2 separate regions of the Homo sapiens genome follow, and region 1 is linked to region 2. The links come from fine-mapping of genetic effects on gene expression. A gene starts in region 2. The other region holds a variant in brackets. All regions are shown on one strand. Distances are between the middles of the regions. Region 1 has its middle 27 kb from the start of MIR12113. Region 2 holds the start of LINC02360 (long intergenic non-protein coding RNA 2360).

The links. PIP is the estimated chance that this variant, and not a neighbour inherited with it, causes the effect.
Region 1: its variant is fine-mapped to the expression of LINC02360 in tibial nerve (GTEx, PIP above 0.99). The same link has a PIP of 0.9 or more in aorta, atrial appendage, esophagus muscle, gastroesophageal junction, lung and thyroid.

What each region holds. Positions count from the first base shown.
Region 1 is chr4:11,805,410-11,815,303 of GRCh38, reverse strand. No RefSeq gene overlaps it. Among named protein-coding and RNA genes, the nearest start is that of MIR12113, 27 kb to the right of the region's middle. RefSeq lists an enhancer at 8,599-9,228. The variant C/G (reference allele first, on the strand shown) is at 5,600.
Region 2 is chr4:11,764,576-11,774,469 of GRCh38, reverse strand. It overlaps LINC02360 (long intergenic non-protein coding RNA 2360), which reads left to right and starts at 5,002. Exons shown (of 4, transcript NR_146995.1): 1 at 5,002-5,167. LOC107986178 (a long non-coding RNA gene) reads right to left here. Exons shown (of 5, transcript NR_188483.1): 3 at 3,995-4,161; 4 at 3,782-3,858; 5 at 595-2,765.

The sequences.
Region 1 (9,894 bases), 41 kb before region 2:
TGTATTTTATTATTTGCTTTTTATTTATTACTAACTTGGGGGGAAGAAGTTCAGAATATTTTTGATAATAATTGTATAAATTTATGGATATCATGTTTCAGTACATGTATATATTGCAAAATGATCAAATTGGCTAATTAGCATACTCATGACCTCAAAAAGTTATTATTTCTGTTTGTTGAGAACCTTTAAAATTCTCTCTTTTAGCTATTTCGAAAAATTCAAACACTGCTATTAATTATCATTACTGGGCTGTGCAATAAAACACCAGGGTATATAACTCATCAGCATTCAGCACATCCACAATATTGTGCAACCACCACCTCTGTCAGCTTGCAAAACATTTTCTTCACTCCAAAAGAAAAACTTATACCCATTAAGCAGTCACATGCCATTCCTCACCCCCACTTCTAGCCCCTGGCAACCACCCATCTGCTCTCTCTCTCTCTCTGTGGATTTTCGTATTCTGGAAATCATACAAATGAAATCATACAATCTGTGGCTTTTTGTGTTTGGCTTTTCCACTTAGCATAATGTGCCTAAGGTATATCCATGTATAGCATGTTTCCATACCTCATATCCTTTAATGGCTTAATAATATTCCATTGTTTGTACTTATCACATTTTGTTCACCCATTTATTTGTTGATGAACATTTGGGCAGTTTCCACTTTTTAGATATTGTAGGTAGTGCTGCTATGAACATTTTATGTACACGTATTTGAGTATCTGTCTTTCAATATACTAAGTTTCCTACAGGATCTTTTTTTTTTTTTTTTTTTTTTTTGAGACAGTCTCCCTCTGTTGCCAGGCTGGAATGCAGTGGCCCGACCTCGGCTCACTGCAACCTCCGCATCCCAGGTTATAGCAATTCTTCTGCCTCAGCCTCCCAAGTAGCTGTATGAACCTTCACACTTTATTAGATTACCTACCACCTACTACTTTATTATGTGAAGCTTGTTTTCCTCAAAATCTTTGCAGGTATTTCCAAGGGAGTCTCTAAACACTAAGCAGAGAAGTGCCTTGTCAAGCTTGAGAGAGGGATTTCCATATTTCCTGTTACTGTTAGTGATACCGTTGTTATTAATATGTTTTATATCTGTCTGTCAATTATGTGTCATGTGTTTTGAATTATGTAAGAAGGATTTTACAGCAGCACATATAACAATAGGAGGGTTATAACAAGCTGCTCTTATTCTGCAGCTGATTTGTTATTTAAACTGAGTGCAGTGGAAAAAATTGCTTGTATTTTTCCTCTTAGTTTTATGTTTCCCTTGCATTCTTACAGCACCAAAAGGTTTCTTTGTAACATAAGACTATTCTAAAGAAGAAAAATAGCCATAATATTTAAACTTACATGAAAATACTTTATTTTGAAGCTGTCTTACGATACATTTTCATAATGGTTAAAAACTGTTTGGTATTTTACGTGGGACATAGGAAAACAATTAGTAATTTTTCTACATCCTAGGCACAAGGGCCTGTTTTTAAATTTTTATTCTCTAGTTTGAATATGAAGTCAAGATTTGGAAGGAAACAGGGCTGAATCTTATGACTACAGATTCAGGACTTCGAAAACAGGTGTTCATCAAGCTGAAAAGAAAAAAATAAAAGAAAAGATATAGTCAAGCTTTTCATAGAACCTGTAGAAAAACCAAGGTTTGTATTTCAGTCGTCTTTACAAAAACAATGAGTTATGTTTCAGAACACTTTCTTCATTTGTTGGAGTATAAAAATAGAGAAAAAGGATGGAAGGGTGTCTTAGATCTGTCTTTTTAGAGGGTTCTACTGCTGAAGCTAAGATGGGGTAAACATTTTAAGTCTGGATGAATAATTATTTGCATATTTTAATGGCCTTGCCAAGTAGAATCTTCATAGATTTGGGTGATGGATGCGTATTTAATTAGCAAACTGAATGTGTTCAAGATAGTAAATCTTCTGGCCCAGGACCATTCCTGTTTTCTCTGCTTTTAATGAGTATTCTATGAAATAAATGAGTTAGATGAGTATTCTATGAAATAAATGAGTTAAATGAGTTAGATGATAAAATACATTTATCTCAAAAACACTGAGGGGACATGGCCACATTTCCATCTTTCAGCTTCTGTTTTCCAGTCACCTGCATCTGAGGGTGTGGATAAACTTCACCTCAGGGCCATCTAGTTTCTATACAAGCCCTCATTCGTCCTTGAAGAGAATTCAGAACAGCACAACCTAACATTTGGGTCCTGTGAATTGTTTGGCTTCTTAACTGTCCTTGACTCTCCTACTTTGGTTTAGAATGCTAATTTTATTTTAGATCCCTCTAGAAGGTGGCAGATACAGCTTGGAGACCTCTCCAGATCTGATGAGAAGGGTAGTTACTTCATCTTGATACAGGAGGCATACGTACTTAGCCACTCTTTCTCAGTCTGTGAAACATATATTGCCTTTGGTACATCACTTCAAAGTTAATTATCAGTTGTTTGAAGGTTAAGTTTATTATAATCTTCTAGTGGCTATGACGTAGGTATATGGCATTATGCTGCCCACCGCCCTCCACCGAAGGTGGTCTGGAGTAGAAGCTAAATTAGAACAAGCTCACTCACCAAGCTGTTAAATAATTTTTAAATATAACCAGTAGCTTTGGAGTTTCTTTCTGTTTTCCTTTTAGGACTAGAATGCCTCCCTACTTAACTCACATGAATTCTTTTGTGCTTCTGTTATGTCCTTATCTCTTAATTCTCCTTGAATGTTTTGTATTCTGTCATATCTCCAACCCTAATCACTGTAACCACTACTCCATATACTTCCTATTCACTTAGATCTTGACATTCTGTCTTGTCAATATCACTGTTATTTCCCACCTAGTACCACCTAATTTAAGGTGTCCTGTCCTAGGCTTCACGAGTGATAATAAGTGCAAGGCTGTTTAGACTAGCTCAGGGTTGTCACAGGCCCTGTGCCATGACCTGTTCAGAATATTCACTTGTCCCTGGCTTTTTGAGATTCTAGCTTGGTTTTGTGTGTTTGCCCTTCTTATGACAGGTTTGCTTCTCCAGTCATTGTGAAAGTCAGCCCTGATTATTTGACTTGTTCCTCAAATGTTGGTTCTTCTGTTAATTCTCCCACTATAGCTTCACATTTAGAAAGTCAGTGTTTCCAATCTCATTCCTACTGAAGATCAAAACAGATCCCTTTATTTAGTCCTCGATACCTCAATGCTATGCCTGTTGCAGAAGAGGGATTATTTCCAGTGCAAGTGCTTCTTGTTGCTTCTAGTCTCCTCTTCTTCACTCTCCTCTCTCTTTTCTATCTCCTTATATGTCCTTGATATAGATTGATGGATTATTAATGAATAAACAAAAACAAACACACAAACAAATTTCATGCACATCCCTATGAAGAGACTACCAAATAGGCTTTGTGTGAGCAATAAAGCTTTTAATCACCTGGGGGCAGGCAGGCTGAGTCCGAAAAGAGAGTCAGCAAATGGAGATAAGGGTGGGGCCATTTTATAGGATTTGGGTAGATAAAGGAAAATTACAATCAAAGGGGGGTTGCTCTCTGGCGGGCAGAGTGGGGAATCACAAGGTGCTCAGTAGGGGAGCTTTTGAGCCAGGATAAGCCAGGAGAAGGAATTTCACAAGACAATGTCATCAGTTAAGGCAGGAACAGGCCATCTGGTTGCGCACATGCAGGTCACAGGGGTTATGATGGCTTAGCTTGGGCTCAGAGGCCTGATATTCCTGTCTTCTTATATTAATAAGAAAAATAAAATGAAATAGTGGTAAAGTGTTGGGACGGTGAAAATTTTTGGGGGTGGTATGGAGAGATAATGGGCGATGTTTCTCAGGGCTGCTTCGAGTGGGATGAGGGGCGGCATGGGAACCTAGAGTGGGAGAGATTAAGCTGAAGGAAGATTTTGTGGTAAGGGGTGATACTGTGGGGTTGTTAGAAGAAACATTTGTTGTGTAGAATTATTGGTGATGGCCTGGATATGGTTTTGTATGAATTGAAAAACTAAATGGAATAAGAGAAGGAGAAAAACAGGTATAAAAGGTCTAAGAATTGGGAGGACCTAGGACATCTGATTAGAGAGTGCCTAAGGAGATTCAGCATAGTCCTGCCAGCAAAGATTATTTATTTACTTCAAGAGTTTAGAGCAGCAGTTTGGGGATAGCACCAGGAGATATCAGCTGTGAAGGCTTGGAGAAACAGTATAAACCGGCAGTGTAAACAAGATCAGGGCATGTATGAGTAGTTGAGAACAGTGAATAGGAGTATGACTAGACAGAAGATAGTAGGGATGACAAGATTTTGGGGGGGCACAGTCTAAGTTGGTCTGGTGTCTGGAATGAGACTAGGGCCTAATAAAAAGGAGCGTCTATACAGGAGCTTAAATGGGCTGTACCTTGTAGCATTCTGAGGACAGGCCTGAATTCTGAGAAGCGAAAGTGGTAAAAGTATTGTCCAGTCCTTTTTAAGTCGGTGACTGAGCTTCGTGAGGTGTGTTTTTAAAAGACTATTAGTCTGTTCTACCTTTCCTGAAGACTGAGGACTGTAAGGGATATAAAGGTTCCACTGAATACTAAGAGCCTGAAAAACTGCTTGGCTGATTTGACTAATAAAGGCTGGTCTGTTATTAGACTGTATAGAGGTGGGAAGGCTAAATTGAGGAATTATGTCTGACAGAAGGGAAGAAATGACTGCGGTGGCCTTCTCAGACCCTGTAGGAAAGGCCTCTACCTATCCAGTGAAAGTGTCTACTTAGAATAAGAGGTATTTTAGTTATCTGACTCATGGCATGTTGAGTAAAGCTAATTTGCCAGTCCTGGGTCAGGGCAAATCCTCGAGCTTGATGTGTAGGGAAGGGAGAGGGCCTGAATAATCCCTGAGGAGTAGTAGAATAGCAGATGGAACACTGAGAAGTTATTTCCTTGAGGATAGATTTCCACAATGAAAAGGAGATGAGAGGTTCTAAGAGGCGGGCTAGTGGCTTGTACTATAGCATAGCCTGCCTTTGATGGTGTGTGGCAATTAGGCCTAGTGGAACTGCCATCAATAAATTAAGCGTGATCAGGGTGAGGAACAGGAAAGAAGGAAATATGGGTAAATGGGGTGAATGTCAGATGGATCAGAGAGATACAGTCATGGGGGTCAGGTGTGGTATCAGGAATAATGTGGGAGGCTGGATTGAAGTCCAGGCCAAGAACAATGGTAATTGTGGGAGACTCAACAAAGAGTGAGTACAGCTGAAAGAGCCAGGGAGCAGAAAGTATATGCATCAGGTATGAGGAAGAAAATAGATTTTGGAAGTTATGAGAAATGTAGAGAGTGAGTTGAGCATAGCTTGTGATTTTTAGGGCCTCTAAAAGTATTAAAACAGCGGCAGCTGCTGCACACAGACATGAGGGCTAGGCTAAAACAGTGAGGTCAAGTTGTTTGGACAGAAAGGCTACAGGGTGCAGTCCTGGCTCTTGTGTAAGAATTCTGACCACGCTAACCATGCCTAGGAAGGAAAGGAGTCATTGTTTTGTAAGGGATTCAGGTTTGGGAGATTAATTGGACACAATCAGCAGGGAGAGCACGTGTGCTTTTATGAGAATTATGCCAAGATA[C/G]GTAACAGATGAGGATGAAATTTGGGCTTGACTGAAGTAACGGGGGCTGTCTGTGAAGCTTTGCGGCTTTATAGCCCAGGTAATTTGCTGAGCTTAATGGGTGTCAGGGTCAGTCCAAGTGAAAGCAAAGAGAGGCTGGGATGAAGGGTGCAAAGGAATAGTAAAGAAAGCATGTTTGAGATCTAGAATGGAATAATGGGTTGTAGAAGGAGGTATTGAGGATAGGAGAGTATATGGGTTTGACACCGTGGGGTGGATAGGCAAAACAATTTGATTGATAAAGCGCAGATCCTGAACTAACCTGTAAGTCTTGTCTGGTTTTAGGACAAGTAAAATGGGGGAATTGTAAGGAGAGTTTATAGGTTTTAGAAGCCTGTGCTGTAGCAGGTGAGTGATAACAGGCTTTAATCCTTTTAAAGCATGCTGTAGGATAGGATATTGGCATTGAGTGGGGTAAGAGTGATTAGGTTTTAATGGGATGGTAAGGGGTGCAAGATCGGTTGCTAAGGAGGGAGTAGAGATATCTTATACTTGTGGGTTAAGGTGGGGAGATACAAGGGGAGGATGTGAAGGAGGCTTTGAACTGGGGGAAAAGGTGGCAATGCAGTGCGGCTGTAGCCCAGGAATAGTCAGGGAAGCACATAATTTAGTTAAAGTGTCTCAGCCTAATAAGGGAACTGGGCAGGTAGGGATAACTAAAAAGGAGTGCTTAGAAGAGTATTGTCTAAGTTGGCACCAGAGTTGGGGAGCTTTAAGAGGTTTAGAAGCTTGGCCGTCAATACTTAACAACAGTTATGGAGGCAAGGGAAACAGGTCCTTGAAAAGAAGGTAATGTGGAGTGGGCAGCCTCCGTATTGATTAAGAAGGGGATGGACTTACCCTCCACTGTGAGAGTTACTTAAAGCTCGGCATCCTTGATGGTCTACGGGGCTTCCGAAGCGATGGGGCAGCATCAGTCTTCAGCTGCTAAGCTGAGATGATCTGGGAAGGAGTCAGTCAAAGAGCCTCGGGCCAGAGTTCCAGGGGCTCTGGGAATGGCTGCCAGGTGAGTTGAACAGTGTGATTTTCAGTGGGGTCCTGCACAGACGAGAGGAGGCTTAGGAGGAATCCTGGGCTGCAGGCATTCCTTGGCCTGGTGGCCAGATTTCTGGCACTTGTAGCAAGCTCCTGGGGGAGGCGGCTCTGGAGGGACGCCTGGCTGCTGCGGTTCAGGTGTTTGGAAGTTCTTGTGTGCTGGAGATGTGGCTGGGGTTTGTCTCACAGTGGAGGCAAGGAATTGCAACTCAGAAATACACTGTTACTTGGCTGCCTCTACTCTATTATTGTACACCTTGAAGGCGAGGTTAATTAAGTCCTGTTGTGGGGTTTGAGGGCTGGAATTTAATTTTTGGAGTTTTATTTAATGTCGAGAGCAGATTGGGTAATATAATGTATATTGAGAATAAGACGGCCTTTTGACCTTTTAGGGTCTAGGGCTGTAAAGCATCTCAGGGTTGCTGCCAAATGAGCCATGAACTGGGCTGGATTTTTATATTTGATGAAAAAGAGGCTGAACGCTATCTGATTTGGGATAAAGAAAAAGGAGCATTAACTTTGACTATGCCTTTAGCTCCAGCCACCTTTTTAAGAGCAAATTGCTGGGCATGTGGGGGAGGGCTAGTCGCGGAATGAAACTGTAAGCCTGACTGGGTGTGAGGAGGGGAGGTGATAAAAGGATTATAGGGTGGAGGAGCGGAGGCTGAGGAAGAATTGGGACCTAGCTCGGCCGGGCGAGGAGGGGAGAGGTCAGATGAGTCTATAGAAAAGGAAGATTAGAAAGACTCATTGACACTTGGGGTTGGGACTGAGGGGACAGGTGGGAGGGAAAGAAGGAAGATATGGGATGAGTTGCACTGGGCACAGAGACTAGGGAGGGACTGATGTGTAAAAGAATGCCTGGAGGTCAGGCACCTCAGACTGTTTGCCTATTTTACAACAAGAGTTATTTAGATCTTGCAGGATGGAAAAATTGAAAGTGCCGTTTTCTGGCTATTTGGAACCACTGTCAAGTTTGTATTCGTGTCAAGCAGCATTGCAGAAGAAAATAAGGCATTTAGATTTTATGTCAGGTGTGAGTTGAAGAGGTTTTAAGTTCTCGAGAGCACAGGCTAAGGGAGAAGAAGGAGGAATGGAGGGTGGAAGGTTGCCTATAGTGAAGGAGGGAAGCCCAGAGAAAAGAGAGAGTAGAGACACAGAGGGAAGGGGTTCGGGGGTTCTTACCATCCAGAAAAGCAGGAAAGGGGTTGGGGCACGGAAATAAGGGGTAGAGGCACAGAGATAAGAGTTCAGGGCATGGAAATAAGGGATTGGGGATTCTTGCCCCCTAGAAAAGCGGGACTTGCTGCTAAGGGTGAAGGAGAAGGGGTTGAGGGGTTCTTGCCTGTCCTTCAGAAAAGCAGAGAAGGGGTAGAGACATGGAGAGAAGGGGTTGGGGTACTTGCCCCTCCTCCAGAAAAGCAGGACTTGCCACTAAGGGTGAATGACCAAGGCAGGCGGTCCCTGCGTGGTCTGACACCTCTGAAATGTGGGTGAATAATCAGAGAGGCATCCCTGCAATGATTAAACATCAAGGGTAGGCTGCCTTCCCAGTCCGTGACCGGTGCCGGAGTTTTGGGTCCACGGATAAAACGTGTCTCCTTTGTCTCTACTAGAAAATGAAAGGAATTGAAATGAAGAGAAGGGAGAGATTGAAGTGTGGCTCCAAGATTGAAAGGAGAAAGAGGTTGAGGGATAGTGAGGGAGGTTGGAGAAGAGAGTAAAAAGAGGCCGCTTACAGGATTTGAAATTGGTGAGACGTTTCTTGGGCTGGTCAATCTGAGGACCTGAGGTTGTAGGTGGATCTTTCTCATGGAGCAAAGAGCAGGAGCACAGGGGATTGATCTCCCAAGGGAGGTCCCCCGATCCGAGTCACGGCACCAAATTTCATGCGCGTCAGTGTGAAGAGACTACCAAACAGGCTTTGTGTGAGCAATAAAACTTTTAATCACCTGGGTGCAGGCAGGCTGAGTCCGAAAAGAGAGTCAGCGAAGGGAGATAAGGATGGGGCCGTTTTATAGGATTTGGGTAGATAAAGGAGAATTGCAGTCAAAGGGGGTTTGCTCTCTGGCGGGCAGAGTCGGGGTCACAAGGTGCTCAGTAGGGGAGCTTTTGAGCCAGGATGAGCCTGGAGAAGGAATTTCACAAGATAATGTCATCAGTTAAGGCAGGAACAGGCCATTTTCACTTCTTTTGTGGTGGAATGTCATCAGTTAAGGCAGGAACAGGCCATTTTCACTTCTTTTGTGGTGGAATGTCATCAGTTAAGGCAGGAACCGGCCATCTGGATGTGTACATGCAGGTCACAGGGGATATGAAGGCTTAGCTTAGGCTCAGAGGCCTGACACAAATTAACACATAAATAAAAGTATAATTTCTGCCATTGTGAGTTCTTTAGGGGACTCACAGTCTAGCAGGGAGAGATGACATTAATGAAATTCAACAAGCACTAAGGCCACAAACAAAACACCCCATATGTGGAAAACATAGTGGTAGGCATAGTTTGTGTGGGAAGATGAGGCTAAGGAGAGCATAGAAATAGTTCTAACACACCCTGCTATTGAATTGCCACCTAGTGGGGAGAATACAGATAATGCATGGCAGCTTAGAGCAATGTGTTAGAAATTTAAATGTGATTGCAACAGGCAGTGAATAAGGAAGTCAGTTTACTGGGGTACTTGAAAAATATTTCATGAACAAGATATTTAAGCTCAAACTGGAAGGACGAATAGAGTTTTATTTACCAGAGAAATGGGAGAATATTACAGGATTGATTTCATTAAGCAAAATGTTGTAAAAGCATCTTATTGTCATAGGTGTTTAAAACTTATTAATTCACCTGGAAAAAGTAGATATTTTGATTAAATGGAATAAAGTATGCAGTTTTGTTTAAGTTTATGGGTCAAAGATAATTGTTACAGTTTTTCACAGTTATCAGCAAAGTCTTTAGTCATCCATAAACATCAGCCAACTGAAGTACAGCAGTGATAACCTTGAGGAAATTAGCATGATTCATTAGGAATTAAGAGGCTTGGGTTAATAAGAAAATTTTTATAAGATGGGTGGGGACAGATTTTACTGTTGAATCAAGATCTACCATTGCTACCTAAATGCTATGTGACTGGCTTTTTGACAACAAACTTAGGGAGAAAATATGATGATGTCTCATTTACAGATGAGAAAAGCAAAATAAAAGAAGACAAGTGATTTGTTGAAGGTCA
Region 2 (9,894 bases):
AGAGTCTGAAGCCTCTATTGCTTTTTGTCGTATGTTGCACAATTTTCTTTCCGTGGGAGCAGAGGCTTGTAAAGGGATAGCAATACCTGCAGATGGAAAAGTAAGGCTTTCTAATTTAAAGGCAGGAGCCAATAGCAGAGGGTCTAGCTGCATGAGGAATGCACTATGTCCTTCAAACTCTGCTTTCTCATTAATAAAGGTGATACCTTGCTTCCATCTAATGATAAACTAGTTTATTTTTGAGAATTATTTCTTCTGCACCATCAAACACACACGGTAGGGAAAATTTCAGGATCTTGTGCAGAAGGAAAAGGGCCTTAAATGAGTCAAACCTTGTTATCTGGGATGGATGTACCCACCTATGGGACAGTAAGGAGAAGGAATACAGGGTGGCTAGGATTACGTGGGGTGTGATAATTCAGGACACTCTTTCCATCTTGAAATAACTCTGAGTCAGCATCAATTGTCTTTGTGTGCCAAGCTTAAATGAGGCAATGCTGAAAATGGGGCTGGCTTGTTCCATTTTTGTGTGTGTGTGTGTGTGTGTGTGTGTGTGACATCACCCCAAACTGCTGTTTAGTGAGAAACGAATCCTGAATTCATTAATGCTTTTTATTCTTGCAAGCATTTCCCTATGGATCAAGTCCTGGGGAAGTTAGAGACAGTCCCCATGAGGCAGTTAATGGTGGGATAGCCTGGGACTATACAATTTATACAATTTTGTGAATCATGCCAGTGAAAACATTCAAAAATGTATCAGCCACCCTTATCAATCAAGACCTTTTTGGCTCAATTTTAAACTTACTTAGAGCAACGAGAAACTTTGTCCACCTTTGAACATGTTGAACTTCAGCTGATTGAGGTCTCCCATATTTTTCTAAGACAAGCAACAGTATCACCTCTTTTGTTGTAAACGTATTTCTCTTAACCAAGCATCCCACTAAAACCTTTCTGTGTGTCACAGTACTGATGTGTTCTCTATGTGAAACAGAAGGAGCACTGGCGTTCTCCTGGACTGGAGTTCTAGTCTGGACAGGGATACGTACTACAATATCTTTAAATTAATTTCCTGGCATCTTTAAGCCTCAGGACTCTGTTATGTAAACTGAAACATCACTGTAGCTTCATTTTGGTGATTACAAACAAACAGCCAGACTACCACTCTGAAGCCACCCTACCCATGCTCAAGTCCTGGTTCTTCCTCTTATTAGCTCTGAAGACCTTACCCAAGTTAAATAACTACTCTATGTCTGAATCTCCTCATCAGTATAATGGACATATCAAGTGTATTCCTATATCATAATGTTGTTCTAATAATAGGTGAGTGAATAAATTTGAAGTTATTAGAGTCGTGCCTGACATAATTAGTGAAACACAAGTGTTGTTATAACAGATAAAACCCTCAAATCTTTTGTTTGGAATATGAAGACTCTGCATTAATGAATTAATCTGTTTCTCAACATCCACTGCATATGTACTCTAGGGCAGGGGTCTTCAACCCCCTGGGCCACAGACTTGTAACTATCCATGGCCCGTTAGGAACCAGGACGCAGACCAGGAGGTGAGTGGCAAGTGAGTGAGTGAAGTTTCATCTGTATTTCTGGCCGCTCCCTCTTACTCACATTATCGCCTGAACTCCATCTTCTGTTATATCTGCCAGCCATGACACTAGATTCTCATAGGCGCATGAATCCTATTGTGGACTGTGCATGTGAGGGATGTAGGTTGCGGGCTCCTCATGAGAATCTAATGCCTGATGATCTGTCATTGTTTCCCATTGGCCCCAGAGGGAACTGTCTAGTTGCAGGAAAGCACGCTCAGGGCTTCCAATGATGCCACATTATGGTGAGTTGTGTACTTATTTCATTATGTATTACAATGCAGTAATAATAGAAATAAAGTGCACCATAAATGTAACGTGCTTGAATTGTCTTGAAAACAGTCCCCCCATCCCAGTCTGTGGAAAAATTGTCTTCCACGTAACCGGTCCCTAGTACCAAAAAGGTTGGGAACTGCTGCCTTAAAGAACACAATATTTGCTAAACATCATGAGGTTGCCCATGTCTAATCCATTGTTTTATTTCTAGTATCTATCCATGCTCTCTATGTAAATATATATATATTGAGTTAGTGAATTAATCTATGCCACACTAAAATTTACCCTTGATTTCTGTCTTTGTCAGAGACATTTATATTCTGTGCCTTTATGTTCATAAATGTTATTTTCTGGGTGTTCCTCTCCTACTTCTTTCCCAATATAACTCTGACCTGTTCTTCAAGGTCTAGTTCAAATGTCATCTGTTTAATTAAGATGCTTTATCTGGAAAGGGCATCATTGTTCTGAAGTGAGAAAGAAATGAGCAGAACTGTAGCAACGCTTTCCAAAATTTTGCTGGAATAGAGCCCAGCAACATGGAACAGTGGCAACAGGAAAATAAAGATGGGGTTTGTGTTCATCCTGAGGAAGGTTTGGGGGGCTTTAGCCTTGCCCCTCAAATCTCCTTTTTTCCATCCAGAAATTTTTGTTTTTGTTGCACTTATTCTTTGATGGAAAAGCCTAACAGTTTCCTTATTGCAAGTAGAGATCATAAAAATATGTTTAGAATATTTTTCTAACTTTCATGTTTGTTCTGTAATTCACATTCTAAGTTACAATGATGTATTTCATATGCACGTAGAGCAACATGACAAGTTCTCCAAATCCTGGTCCAATCCAAATGCTTACTCTTCACTCCTCCTATAAGGAAATTGTAGAAGCACCATTGCTTGAAGATGGGGAAAAAAAAAAAGTTAACACAGGAGAACTGGCACTATGTTTATCTATGCATTAAAACAAGAAAATGTATTTGCTTTCACATTACCCCTTTGACTTTTTTGTCAGAAAAGCATTAAAATCGTCGTTGTATAAATAAATTAGAAATGGAGGCACAGAGGTTGCAACAATTAAAAATAAAATTAAAAAAAGTAACGAGTTGAGTGCAGGGCAAAATTCTGAAACCTACTCTAATTATTACAAACTTGGTCTTTTATTCATGGTATCTTAATGTTAATGGAAAGTAATCTGTATATTTTAATTCCATGGCCAAGATAAAAGTGTTGCAAGTCCTCATTATTAATAACCACTCATGAATATTATGACAAGATTTAGTTTTTTGCCCTGTAGTTATAGTTGAGCTTCCACATTCAAGCTGGCCTTTAATTTCTTAAACACCATTTTGGCTATGGAGAAAAATATCAGAAAATCAGAAAAAAAATACAGCCTTAAGGGAAAAAAGTATAATTATAGTATTAACTCACAAGAAAGCTTTGTGCTATTAATCTGGAATCTGGGCCTTTAGCGCACATATCCTTATCATAAATACCCTTTTACACAGATGAAAAGTGCAGAAAACTGAAATCTGAAAAAGTCAATTATTCCTAAGCATTCTCCAAAAGGGAGAAAAGCCAGTGCTTTACACCAACTGGCAACTTATATGAGTCTACAATTGAAACTTTTTCACCGTTTAAGTTCTAGAACAGTGGACCCCAATCTTTTTGGCACCAGGGACCAGTTTCATGGAAGACAATCTTTCCACAGACTTGTGGGTGCAGGAGGATGGTTTTGGGATTAAACTGTTCCACCTCAGCTCGTCAGACATTAGATTCTCATAAGGAGTGTGCAGCTTCTATCCCTCACATGCACAGTGGGGTTCACACTCCTATGAGAATCTAGTGCCCTGCTGCCATTGATGTGATGGGAGGCGGAGCTCAGGTGGTAATGCTCTGCCTGCCTGCCACTTACCTCCTCCTGGGCAGCCCAGTTCCTAACAGACCATAGCTCCATATCAGTCCATGGCTCAGGGGTTGGGGACTCCTGATCTAGAAGGTATGAGCATGATAATATCCTTTTGAATTCATTCATATACCGAAAGCATATTATATGGCAGCTACTGTTTCAAATACATGGCACAGGATCCCCCACATCCATGTCTTTTCTATATGATTCTAAACTCACTGAACAGACTTTTTGGCAGAGTGGCGGAGGCCTGCTCATCTGACTCCAAGGACTTCCCAGGGATTTTCAAAGTGGGCACAAGGACACAGAAGCAAGCCCTTTTCCAACAGTGGCAGCTACAGGGCAAGTGACTCAAGGGATGGCAGTCTTCATGTATCCCAGCTTTTCTGGAAAAGGAGAGCATAAAATGGACATTCAAAGTCAGCAAATACAAGAAATATGAAGACAACTCTCTGGTAGTTATGGAAGTACTGGGATCCTTCCAGTTTTTTTTCTTTTTAAATATTTCAATTTGTGTTTATGTCTCTTTAAATCAAAACATGCCTTATTTATGCAAGAGTCTGGTAGTAGGAAAGAAAAAGCACTGTATCTTGTAGTAAGTGCAATAACAGAGAAAAATCTAGGGCACTGTGGGAGTTTAGAAAATATTTCTCGACACCAGCATTGAGGAAAACAATATTTACTAGAGAGGTGTGCTAAGTTATTATTTTTGTTTTGTTTCTATGTGTATTTATTTGTTTCAACGTTTTGTAGAGAAAATCTGGAGTTGTGGGTGGCAAAGTATACAAGATAGGCATGCTAAGGGCTTTAGGAAGAGGAGGAAATTATCAAGATAAGCCAGAGTCAAGAAAATATGAAACACAAGAAAATTCATAGTGATTGACAATGGTAAGCAGAGGCTCATGTTGAAGAGTAAGAGGAAATAAGCCTTTAAGACACTGTATCTGAGTTCTTAGTTTTAAGCACTGTAGATAAGTATGTGCTGGATCAAGCAAAATGGCTCACTTCCTTGAAATATGGGGAAATAAATCTGTGTAAGGATGGCTGGTCCAGCTGGTTTCCTGCCAATTCTTGGATGGGTCATCCTAGTCCAGAGTATCATGGAAAATTGTTCACACAGCTTGACTGATTGCTTTAAGGGTTTACACTTGTCTCAACTCAGAAATCCAAGCTCTCCCAGGACTGTTCTAACGGCAGTTCTAAAAGCCTCTTTGGTGTGTTGGAGGCCAGGTAGAGGTGAAGCTTCGCAGTGCTTGGACGTATACTCAACCATACGGAGAATATCAGCCTGTAGCAGGTAAATAAGAGCCCAGCACAGAAGAAAAGGCAGAGCTACAAGAAGACAGTGCCACATTATTTTCATTGGAATCTATGTACGCATCTATGCCTGAGGTAAGATCCACCTCATCCTTCTGAAATACCGTATTTTGATCAATTTGGCTCCATGGGGCTTCTGTTACTTGCAATGTAAAACTATACCAATTATACTCTGAAGCTAGAAAGTGTTTCTCCTATTGGATAAGTGCAATTCATGTTATAAAATTGATTTCTGATTTAAGAGCTAGGAGACAACACACATAACGTGCACCTGCTTACGTTGTGTCATAGATGAGAAAATTGAGAAATAAAGCAGGTAAGTAGCTTTCCCCATACAAGTTGAATTGGTATCAGAGAAATCCCTTCATTAGCAATTGGTAGGTATTCTATTTCACAAGTGTATACATGTGCCATTAACTATGCATGATTGCATATGTACATATATATGCACACATGCAAGTATATAAAAGGCAAAATTGTGTACTGTATATGTTTGTTATATAGTATGTTCAGACACACATATATAAAACCTAATGTAATTAGTACTATCTATCGACAATGACTTACTTGACTTCAGAGTGGTTACTTTGTACAGTGAGAACAGAGTAAATATATGTGGACTTTGGAATCACTAGGTATAGCTCGTTGGCCTGAAATGACACCAGGGCAGAGAGGGGCTTATTTCAGGGTAGAAGATCCAAATATATCACTTTATCTATTGCTCGTTTCAATAATTTAAATGTTGTTATTTCTTTGTTTCTTTAGGTATATGTTTCCATTTTACTTTTAGGATGACACACCAAGGTCTAGGCAATTGCTTAAGCTCGTTACTCAGGATGCCGTATCACTGCTGGCTAGAATATTTCTTTGGCAAGTCTTGTTACCATGTCCACCAACTTTATATAGCATACTTCGTTCAGATTTGGAAGCACTGTTACTGTTTTTTTTCCTCATTTAAGCAGCTTATGATTAGGGAGGCTGACAAGAATTTAACATGAGTAAGCCTCTGGCAGTGAGAACAGAACTTCTTAACGCTCAGCAGTTAGCACCAAAGACATCAGCACTTGACAATGGAATTAAACTGTCCTTTGACAACAAGAGTTTATGATGACAATCTATCTAATTGTTCTTTCTCCCAAAAATATAGAAAACTGTCCTGTCCTAGCTGCACAAGGAAGGAATAAAGAATATAAAAATCTTATTATGCTTCATGCCCGTTAGAAAACATTTTTAAAAATTAAAAAATTAAAAATGAAGCTCAAGTAACATTTAAAACACTCCAAATCCAATTGAAAAATATTTAGAGAGGTTGAATTTTTCAAAAGCTATAGAGACTTGATCATATAGTAGAGGAAAGAACAATAATTTTAGAATGAAATAGTCCTAGAATAAAAAACAATAATAAATCCTGGTTTTATGATGTTTTTATAATTTATCAGCATAATTTTCTAAGCATCAGTCACACCTCACATGTCTTAGAGTAGGATTCAAAATTTTGAGGCCTAGCAATTATATCATAAAAACATACAATATATCATAGAAACATATGTATTGAAAAGGAATGGAGGTAAGGAAAGAGGGGATGTTACCAAGTTGGTCAGTATTTGGTGTCAAGCTCAACGTATAACTCAAAAGCATTCTCAGGCTCTTCCAGATGCATGTGACAACCTCTTAGAATTGAAAGATGGTTTAGGCATCATCTACTATAGTGTTTCTACAAAATCCATGTCTAATGTGCATTATTGCTGGGCAGTGACAGATCCAATTCAATAATTTTATCTTCTATTTTATCTTCTATGTGAAGAAACAAAAAAATGGTAAAATAAATTGTTCAAGGTCACATGAAGTTTTTTCTCAGAACCGGTTTTAAATTAGGTCACTCTCCAATCTAAAGCCATTTTTCCTTTTTTTTTTTTTTTTTTTTTGTCTGAAGCAACATCTTCCCAATTAATCACTCTCTGTTCTTCTTGGACTCCACGTAGTATTCTAAAGAGCAAGGAGCAAGAATGGCTCATCTATTTATTGGAGGACCCAGTCTAGTGCCAATCATAGAGTAAAACATAAAGTGACTATTGTAGGTTGAAATGTTTCCCTAGAAAGCCCTATGTTGAAGGCCCCTAATACTTCAAAATGTGCCTTAATTAGGAAGTAAGGTCACTGAAGATATAATTAGGTAGGTTAAGAAGAGGCCATTCTAGAGTACAATGGGACCCTAATCTACTGTGACTGGTATTCTCATGTAAAAAGGAAATTTGGACATGAAGGTACACACATACACACAGAACACCATATGAAGATAAAGGCAGAAATAAGAATGATGCTTCTAAACAACCAGGAATACCTAAGATGGCTAGACAATTACCGAAAACTATGCAACGGCCATGGAATGGAATGTTATTCTGCCATATAAAAGCCGAACATTATAGAATATGTGACCACATGATGAACCTTGAGGGAATCAAGCTAACTGAAATAATATAGTCACAGAATAAGTGCTGTATGATCTCACTTACAAGTGGAATATAACAAAATCAAATTCATACAGGCAGATAGTAGAATGGTGGTTACCAGCCACGGATGGGGAGCAGGGGAAATGAGGAGTGGTAGGTCTGAGGATACAAACTTGCACTTATGTAGGGTGAATAAGTCTAGAGGTCTAAAGCATAGCAGAAGAATTATAGTTAATAATATTGTATTGCATGTTAGAAATTTACTAACAGTAGATTTCAGACACTTATATCACACATACACACAAAAAGAGAAGAGTAACTATGTAAACAGATGGATACGTTAGCATGATTCACTGTGGTAATCATTTCAGTATGTATATGGATATTAGAACATACAGCTGAAACATATACAACTAAACAGCGCATAACACACATAAGAAAAATAAGCATAGTTATATCTATCTGTATATTTTTTATACAAAGACGTCATTGGGCATGAAACCACATAGAAATCATGACAATAAGAGCACAATACACATAGATTAGTTGACTCTAGTTTTCTCATCTCTCCCTAAATTTGTATAATAACATTTTACTTTCAAATTTGTTTTAGTGGTTAAAAAAAAGTACACATGCAACATGCTTGACACTAGGAGAGTTATCAGAAATGGATAGCCTCTCAAATTCTGTCAATTTTGAAATGGAAAGGTGGTTCTGATCTTATTTGTGTGAATCTGGAAGCATCAGAATACTTCACATTCAATTTTTTTAGTTAGTTAGTTACTCCCAATTTGATAAAATGAGTTCATAGCATTTTGGGGAATGAGCTTACAGCCTTGACAACAGAGCGTCCAGGGAGAAATGCCCTCTAGTGGACGTTTTATCCCCACTCGGAGGATACCTGGGAGGATCTCTTAAGTGTCTCATTTTTTTCTCTAACACATTTTACAAGTTAAAAAATACATATATTTTCAGAACAGTCATTAATACATTAATTTACTTCTTGAAATTTACTATCTTCAGATAGATTAGATAGTGTTTTGATGAAATTATCTAAAACAAATTCTGGTAAAATACAGACTAGTAACTCATACATCTTGATTTTATCGCTGATTCTAAGGGTGACCTTCGGCAAAACCTGGTTTCTTCATATTTTTTTCCCCTACCTGAAACATGAGACCTCAAAATACCTGACATCAAGTAATCTAGCTGGAGAAATATCAACTTTGTGTCTAATCATATTACACTTGACTGTAAAGAGAAAATAAGAAGTCCCTTCTGTAATATTTACCTAGGTATATCATATACATGTAGTTTCAATAAGCAGAATAAATGTTGGATATATTAAATAGTCTAATGCAAAAATCCTGATTTGAAAGCAAGACTCCTTTTGTATATAATGTCATGTTTTATATTTCAGGGGAAAAAGAATAAAGATTTGAGAATCAAATTTTACCCTGGGGAGTCCCTGATATAATTCTAGTTTTCCCACTTCAGAAGATTAATCTTGAAAAACATAGGGAAAGAAAAAAATGTGTAAAGATGGCTTTAAATGTTTCAAAATAAGAATTTAGCTACAAGGACTGGCCTACAATTTGTTATTCAGAGTGCAAAAGAAGATATTTATGAGTTTAGAATATATTCCATATTTATAACATTTGTATATTTGTTATTTTATTCTTATTTCTATTTTGATTTACTTTTATCTTATATATAATATATGGTACCTATATATAACTTAGAAGAGTGAAAAAATATATAAAATATTTTGGTATGCATGCTTTAAATCTGATAGTTAAACACGATCATTGAGTCTTTCAAGCCCAGAAATAAATTTATACATTATACATACAGTCAATTGATCACCAATAAGGATGCCAAAAACACAAAATAGTGAAAGGAGAACATTTTCAACAAATTGTTTTGGAAAAACTAGGTACCCCCATACAAGAGAATGGAATTGGGCCCTTCACATACACAAAAATCTACTTAAAATGGATTAAAGACAAACATAAGACCTTAAATTATAAAACTACTGAAAAAACAATAGGGAAAAAACTATATGACATTGGTCTGGGCAATGCTTTTTTGGAATTGACCCCAAAAGCTCAGCCAACAAAAAACAAAAATAGACAAATGGAAATTCATCAAACTAAACTAAAAAGCTTCTGCACAGCAAAGTAAACAATAGAGTTAAGAAGCAATCTATACAATAGAAAAAAAAATTTATTTGTAAGCCATACATATGATAAGGGATTAGTATCCAAAATATATTAGAAACTCAGAGAACTCAATAGCAAGAAGACAACCTGATTAAAAAAAAAACTAGACAGAGGATCTAAATAGGTATTT